Homo sapiens: one gene and its partner. The protein of the gene in region 1 purifies or fractionates together with the protein of each later gene. This does not show direct contact. Each region holds a gene or a part of one and is shown on either strand. Other genes may lie near its edges.

What was found.
Region 2: the proteins of TNFAIP8L1 (region 1) and PIP4K2B purify together in Homo sapiens (affinity purification with mass spectrometry, with the first as the bait; one large-scale study listed by BioGRID). This does not show direct contact.

What each region holds. Positions count from the first base shown.
Region 1 is NC_000019.10:4,649,497-4,653,081, reverse strand, and holds part of TNFAIP8L1 (tumor necrosis factor alpha-induced protein 8-like protein 1), read right to left. Parts: intron 1,216-3,585; 5' UTR 1,213-1,215; coding exon 652-1,212; 3' UTR 1-651. UniProt on the Homo sapiens protein: Acts as a negative regulator of mTOR activity.
Region 2 is NC_000017.11:38,778,911-38,782,719, reverse strand, and holds part of PIP4K2B (phosphatidylinositol 5-phosphate 4-kinase type-2 beta), read left to right. Parts: intron 1-2,115; coding exon 2,116-2,268; exon of another isoform or gene 2,269-2,270; coding exon of another isoform or gene 2,271-2,273; intron 2,274-2,787; coding exon of another isoform or gene 2,788-2,868; intron 2,869-3,190; coding exon 3,191-3,337; intron 3,338-3,809. UniProt on the Homo sapiens protein: Participates in the biosynthesis of phosphatidylinositol 4,5-bisphosphate. Preferentially utilizes GTP, rather than ATP, for PI(5)P phosphorylation and its activity reflects changes in direct proportion to the physiological GTP concentration.

The DNA of each region.
Region 1 (3,585 bases):
CGCCCGCCTCAGCCTCTCAAAGTGCTGGGATTACAGGCGTGAGCCACCGCGCCCTGCCCCAGGCCCCCTTTTTTTAAGGACCCCAGTCCTTGAATTGGGGCCCACCCTACTCCAAGATGAGATCATCTGAACTAATTCCATCTGTAATGATCCTATTTCCAAATCAGATCATCTTCTGAGGTCCTGGGGGTTAGGACGTGAGTTTATGGAAGGGGGGGTGCCGCGACTTGCCCCCTAACACTTCCCTTCCCCCAGTTCACCGTGTGAACCCGTAGTCCTTGTGCGAGGGATGAAAATCCCAGGCGACATGATCCAAGTGGGAGGCAGCAGCTTTTGGCTTTTACATCAAGCGACCCAGGGGTCGGCGTGGCCCAGAAAGTACAAACGGGTGAAAGGTGGTCCCCAGAGTAGGGCCCCAAATTCCTCTCCCCATTGGGCGGGGGCCAGGAGGAGAGGTGACATTGGTGTTTGAAACAGCTGCTACAGATGCCTCAGCATCCTCTCAAAGGAGACAGGTCACCCATCTGTCTAGGGGAGTTTGGCCGGAGTCCGATTGGGAGAAAAGAGGTGGAAAAAAACCCACAAACCCCACCCGCGCCCAGCAGGAGAGCCCCAAAAGGCGCGAGGGGCGCGGTTGGGCGGCGCCGGGGTTCAGAGGCTGCCCTCGTCCAGCATCCGGCCCAGGCCCTCGCAGATCCTGCGCAGGTGGGAGCGGTAGGGCTCGGCGGGGCCGTAGAGCGCAGCCAGGAAGTCGCAGTCGGCTAGGTGGCCGAACACGTGGTTGATGCGGCCGTGGGACTTGGCGGTCAGGTGGGGACCCACGGCCTGGTGCAGCAGGTCGCGGCACTCGAGCAGCCCGGCGGCCAGCACGCGCCGGTCGAAGGTGAAGTCCACCTGGTGGAAGCTGACGGCCGTCATGGCCAGGCAGCGCGCCCGGTGGCGGAAGCGCCGCAGCAGCGCCAGCTCCTCACCGCCCAGCTGGTCCCCACGCAGCAGCAGTCCCAGCTTCAGGGCCACCTTGACCAGGTTCTTGAGCATCTTCTGGGCCTCCTTGCGGCTGCGCGTGAACTCCCTGGTGGCGCGGTACAGCTCATCCAGCACCTCACTGCTGGTGTCATCCACCAGCACGGCCACCACTGCCTTGGACGCCATCTTACTCAGGAGCTTCTTCTGCGCCTGCAGAGCCAGGCTCTTGGTGCTGAAGGTGTCCATGGCCTGCGGGGGACACAGACCAGCCCTCAGTTTTGCACGTTGGGGCACTCCTCACACAGAAGAGGTGACAACACCACAGACCCCAGAGGGCCTAACGGAATTTGTTTCTTTAAAAAGTGTCATGCCGGACGCAGTGGCTCACGCCTGTAATCCCAGCAATTTGGGATGCCTAGGCAGGCGGATCGCCTGAGATCGAGGTTAGGAGTGCGAGACCAGCCTGGCAAACATGGTGAAACCCATGTTTCTCTCTACTAAAAATACAAAAATTAGCCAGGCTTGGTGATGGGTGCCCGCAATCCCCGCTACTTGGGAGGCTGAGGCAGGAGAATCCCTTGAGCCCGGGAGGCGGAGGTTGCAGTGAGCTAAGACCATGCCACCGCACTGCAGCCTATAATTCAAGCCTGTGGTTCATGCCTGTGGTCCCAGTGCTCTGGGAGGCTGAGGCAGGAGAATTGCGAGGCCAGGAGTTTGAGACCAGCCTGGGCAACATAACAAGACCCTATCTCTAAAAAAAAAAAATCAAAAATTTTATTTTGTATTTATTATTATGATTATTATTATAAACAAACAGAGAAGGCCCTTCTGAACCCCACTATCTGTAGGGTCTGATGCCAGCCCTCAAACCCATCATATCCTTGCTATGAGCTGAGAAGGGGCTCAAGGTGATTGTTACAGGGGGTTCCGTTCCATCCCCTAGGTCCAGCTCAACACTCCCCACCCTCACCCCACAGCTCCATGAGGTGGGGTTCCAAGTGAGCCCCAGACCCGGGGCTGTTCAGGGTGGAGGAGCCCCATTACTATGGCAGTGCCTCCAGTCCCACTGCCCCCGCAGGGTTGGTTTATTTATTATTTATTTATTTTATTATTATTATTATTACTATTTTTTGAGATGGAATCTCCCTCTGTCGCCCAGGCTGGAGTGTGGTGGCACGATCTCGGCTCACTGCAAGCTCCGCCTCCTGGGCTCACGCCATTCTCCTGCCTCAGCCTCCGGAGTAGCTGGGACTACAGGCGCCCGCCACCACACCTGGCCCCCGACAGGGTTTATAACAGGCATGTCCAAGGCCTTCAGCCCCGAGTGAGCCAGGGGGTGATGGGTTCACAGGGGGCCATTTGTGGGGTTTCTGGGAAGGCATGGCTCCGATGATTCCTCCAACAGGGAAACATTGACTTGGACAGCCCCCGTCCAGGCTGGGACTGGGGAGGTGGCCAAGGTGAGAGCCTGGCCAGCTCTCGAGGCATAAGGGCCAGGCCTCTCACTGCAGAACCATCCCCCTGTCCCTGTCTGCTCCTTTTCTCTGTCCACCCTGCCCTGTAGCCTGCCCAGTTTCCCCAGCCCTGGAGCTTCCCCCTCCACCCACCTCCTTCCTGCAGCTCCGGAATTCTTCCTAAATCTCAGAGTAGGGCATAGCCCTTACCTGCTGAGAACAAGCTGACAGCTCCTCAAAGCTCCCAGGACCAAGCTCCACACCTCACTTGGAGCCCTGACTCTTCCCTGTGGACCTCAATACCCTAAGGCCCCATCTCCTCCCTGGTGAACTCCTATACACCCCCCAAAGCCTGGCCCCCAAGCCCCTGCCTCTTCCCTGGTAAACTATACATCCCCATCACTTTGGCCCCCAAGTCTCTGCCTCCTCTGAGCCGCAGGTTCCCCAGGCATCCCCATTGCTCCTCTGCTCCCCAGCTCTGCACCCCAACTGGTCTGCCTCACCCCAGGCCACAGGGGAGGTCATGGGCCCAATTCCTTATCCACGGTGTCCCTGCAGACTCCAGAAACATCTGCTGAATGAAGAGGGGAGTGTGGAAGAACTGGCGGAGGAGGGAGGGCCTGAGACCCGCCCCCGGTCTCTCTCACTGCCCCAGACCCTGCTCAGCCTCCACTCCCACCCCAGCGCCAGGCTGCCAGCCTTGGAATGCCATGTGGGCACCCACCTACCCCAGGAGCCCCCACAAAGCCGGTCTTTGTGTGAGTTCAGACTCCGGGAGAAGTTCCAAACCCTCGGCCGCCCTCTGAGGTCAGGGCAGGCACGGGAATTGCTGGATGGGCCGCCCCTGCCCTCCGACCTCGGTCACCAGACCCTGGCTCTGCACAGGCCTAGGCCAGAAGAGGGGTGCTGTTGACTCAGTGCCACGTGGCAGACCCTGAGTCAGCGATGTGTGCCCACTTTGTCATCGCCACCATGTACTAGGCAGGTTGCCTGTTTTGCAGAAGAGACCACAAAGGCTCAGAGAGGCTGAGCCACTTCCCCAAGACCACACAGCAATACAGTAACCACTGGCTCTCAACGCCCTTGAACCCCAACTCCCTGTGCCTTCCCCACCTAACGCCCTCAACTGGCCGTGAGTCTTAGAGGGCAACCCTGATATTTAGGG
Region 2 (3,809 bases), on another chromosome or scaffold:
CTCCCCTCTCTCCTCCTCTCTGGAGGGCTTGCATGCAAAGAAAAGTATCTCGAAGAAGAGGGTGAGGGTTTGTGAGAGGAGGAGGAGATGCCTTGGGCTTGAATGCCCAGGAGTGCCTACACCTAAGAGGTACTGGGAGGTTCCTCCAGCCTGCTGTTAGGATTGAACCCTGAACTCAATCATGACTTGACTGGGGCTGGAGGTTTTCTGGAAACTTCTTGCCACTATTGCAACCCCAAGTTGCTCAGACAGATTCCCTCCATTGTTCCTTGGTGAGGGGTTGCAAGTGAGGGGTTCCTTTCCCTCCCCTGGGCTGTCTAACCACATCCTCTCAGTGTCTGCATTTTGCCCCTAGTAGCCTTGTGGGCGCATGCCCGTGCTCAAGACTGAAATGAGGGCAGGGAGGATGGTGCTCAGGGAGGGGACCCTATATTCTTGGACTACCAGCCACTTAGAGAGTCAGGGGATGCTGCCTCTACCTCCCAACTAGGCTTGCAGCCTGTAAGTCTTATGGTAGAGAGGCCAGGCTGGGAGGAAGAGGCGCTCAGTCACAGAGTCTACTCAACCTTTCTGTAACGGGAACAGCCTGTTTTTTGGGGTGCTACTTTAGCACCTTTGCTGAGGAACTCCCAGAGCTGCTTACCACCTCTGACTTTAGTTTTCCCCATGAAGGTGGTCCTCACTTCTCCACCAGGGTTTTCTGAGGAGGTATTAGGGGAAAGTAAAGAGTAGGATCCTGATCAGCCGGGCATGGTGGTGCATGCCTATAGTCCCAGCTGCTCAGGAGGCCGAGGCGAGAGGATCCCTTGAGCCCAGGAGTTCAAGGCTGCAGTGAGCTATGATCGCACCACTATACTCCAGTTTGGGTGACAGCAAAACACCATCTTTAAAAAAAAAAAAAAAGGCTGGGCACAGTAGCTCACACCTGTAATCCTAGCACTTTGGGAGGCTGAGGCAGGAGGATTGCTTGATCTCAGGAGTTCTAGACCAGCCTGGGAAACATGGCGAAACTACATCTCTACAAAAGCTACAAAAATAAGCCGGGCATGTTGGTGCACACCTGTAGTCCCAGCTACTTGGTAGGCTGAGGCGGGAGGATCACTTGAGCCCAGGAGGTAGAGGCTGCAGTGAGCTGAGATCTCACCACTGTACTCCAGCTTGGGTGACAGAGTGAGACCCTGTCTCTACAAAAATAATAACAGGATCCTCATTAAGAGATGGGGAAACATCTTGGAGAGGAGACATTTCTGTGACATGATCCCCATGTATGTTTTCTTGGGAACAGGGACACTTGGGATCTCCCCTCACCGTTGCTTCCCAGAGGTCCCTTGGCATCTGCTTGGTGAACATATCCCTTTGGTTGACTCACGCCTTCCCACACCCTCCCTCTTAAGGCTTCTACTGCTCTCTGATCCTAATGGGAGTAGGACCTTGAGGAGGAGCAGGGATACAGCCAGGAAAGCTCCCCAAAACTGCCTCCCAGCCTTGCATAGACAAGCAGGAGGTTGAGGCAAGGGGAAAGGTGTCAGGCTCAGAGATGAGGATCAGCTTCCTGCTTTGGGGAAGGTTTTTCAGCATTAGGGTAGATCCAGGGACAAGAGACGAATGGGCATTGCTTCTTTGTGCTAGACCCCTTGAAGACAGTATTTTCTAAGCTTCATCTTTGCTACCCCCAAGAGACTGGGAGAATCAGCTCAGTCTGCATCTTTGTGTTCCTGATGAGGAAATGCAGGGGTAGAGAAGTTAAATGGCTCACCCAAGGTCATAGTGCGTGTGAGAGTCCAGATTAGACTCAGCCCCCTCCATCAGAGGCAGAATTTTAGTTGGTAGGATAGCTATCTGGGATCAGGATGGAAACTTTCACAGTCAGTCCTCTTCCCATCCTAGACTGGGATGAAGAGCAGGTGGTAAGGAACAATTCTTGTCACTTTGGAGGAAGACTTAGGGAGGGATGTGAACACCCTGTGAGAAAAGGGGAGGGTAAACTCCCATCTGGGAGTCCCTCTATCTCAGTGTTGTTGGCTTTCAAGCAGTCCAGCCCCTGAGGGAAGACTCAGCGAAAGTCAGAATTCTGTTCCCCTGCCAAGCCCAGCCTTCTTTTGTCTCGATTATCAGAATTCAGTGACGCGCAGCGCCCCCATCAACAGTGACAGCCAGGGTCGGTGTGGCACGCGTTTCCTCACCACCTACGACCGGCGCTTTGTCATCAAGACTGTGTCCAGCGAGGACGTGGCGGAGATGCACAACATCTTAAAGAAATACCACCAGGTATGGTGAGTCCCAAGCCTGGGCTGCAGAGGATGGGTTGGAAGAGGGAGAAGAGAGCCCTGGGGGAGCTTCTTAGGGAGGGGTTGGTCCTCTCTGGTAATGGCAGCTGCTTCTGATCACCAAGCAGTGGGACTCTCCTGCAACCGTATTTCTGTGAGCTGAAATGCCTACTTTAAAAAAGAAAAAAGGAGCCATGAAGGCTCATCGCTGACTGACTCCCAGTTGGAAAGTGTTCACGCACTGGCATCCGCCCCGTTTCTTCTGAAAGAGGCCCCCTCAGCTCGGCAGGCTTGTTTCTTTTCCCGTCCCATCTCTCCACTCATCTGGAACCTGTCCATGAGGAAGGCAGGGAGCCCCGTGGCACCATCTGTGTGTCTGTCCTCAGCCTACTTGGGTCTTCATTTCTGGGGCACCTGAGAAGGGCCGAAGGGAGCTTCTGGTCTTTCAGGAGTTATGGCAGAAACCCTGGGGCATGGCATGGATAAGAGCTTTGGATATGGAGCTGTTCTCTTCTCCCAGATGGCTGGATCCCTGGCCTGCCTCTGCATCCTGTCTCTTCCCTGCGGCATTCCCATATCAGGCTGGCAGAAGAGATGCAAGGTGTGGATCAGGGATTTTCCTGTGGTAGAATCCTACTTTAAACAAAATCTTAGGTGAGATACTAATAATATGAACCCACAGGGGCTCTGAGCCACCTGCTCAGCTTGCCTCTCCCTCTGCCATGCCAACAGGAGGCTGGAGGTGGCTGTTGCCCATTTTAAGCCTGAGAAACCCCTATTACTTCATAGAACCCAGCTGGAGAACTACTGGTCTAGAGGTTAGAATCCCAGGGAGCCAGGGAGCATTTTAGTCTGGGGTGAGCCCCATCCATCCCTGGCACTGCCTGTTCCTTAGTCCTCTCTCTTCTTCCTTTCCATTCTAGTTTATAGTGGAGTGTCATGGCAACACGCTTTTGCCACAGTTCCTGGGCATGTACCGCCTGACCGTGGATGGTGTGGAAACCTACATGGTGGTTACCAGGAACGTGTTCAGCCATCGGCTCACTGTGCATCGCAAGTATGACCTCAAGGTAAAGGGCTCTGTGTTTGCCGGAGCTGTGCCTCCCCTCTATCTGAGCCCCGAAGGGGCCACTACTCCAACTTCCATGTAATTGGGAAGCTGGAGCCTATGTGTTGGCATGGACAGGGAACTCTGGAGTGGATATGCCTGATTCTTGTGGACCAAAGGCAGTTTGAAGTCCAGGTGACAGTAACAGGAGATTATTTAAGCCCTAAATGTGCCATATTTATGCAGCAGTTGATGTTCCTGTCTGTGGAATGTGCACAGTGAGGGAGGCCGTGCTGACGCATGCACTTTAGCATCCATCAGGCCCCCATGGACTGCCAGCACAAGTGCATCTCTAGACTCTGAGAAGGACACACTTGTGGCTGTGAACTAGGGTGCTCCGTGTTCTTGAACCTGGCTTCTGACTTCTGTCACCTTATGCCGCCATCCCTTCCCTCTGTGCTGCAACTGGGCTGGTTTCCTCTGTGTTCCTGCAG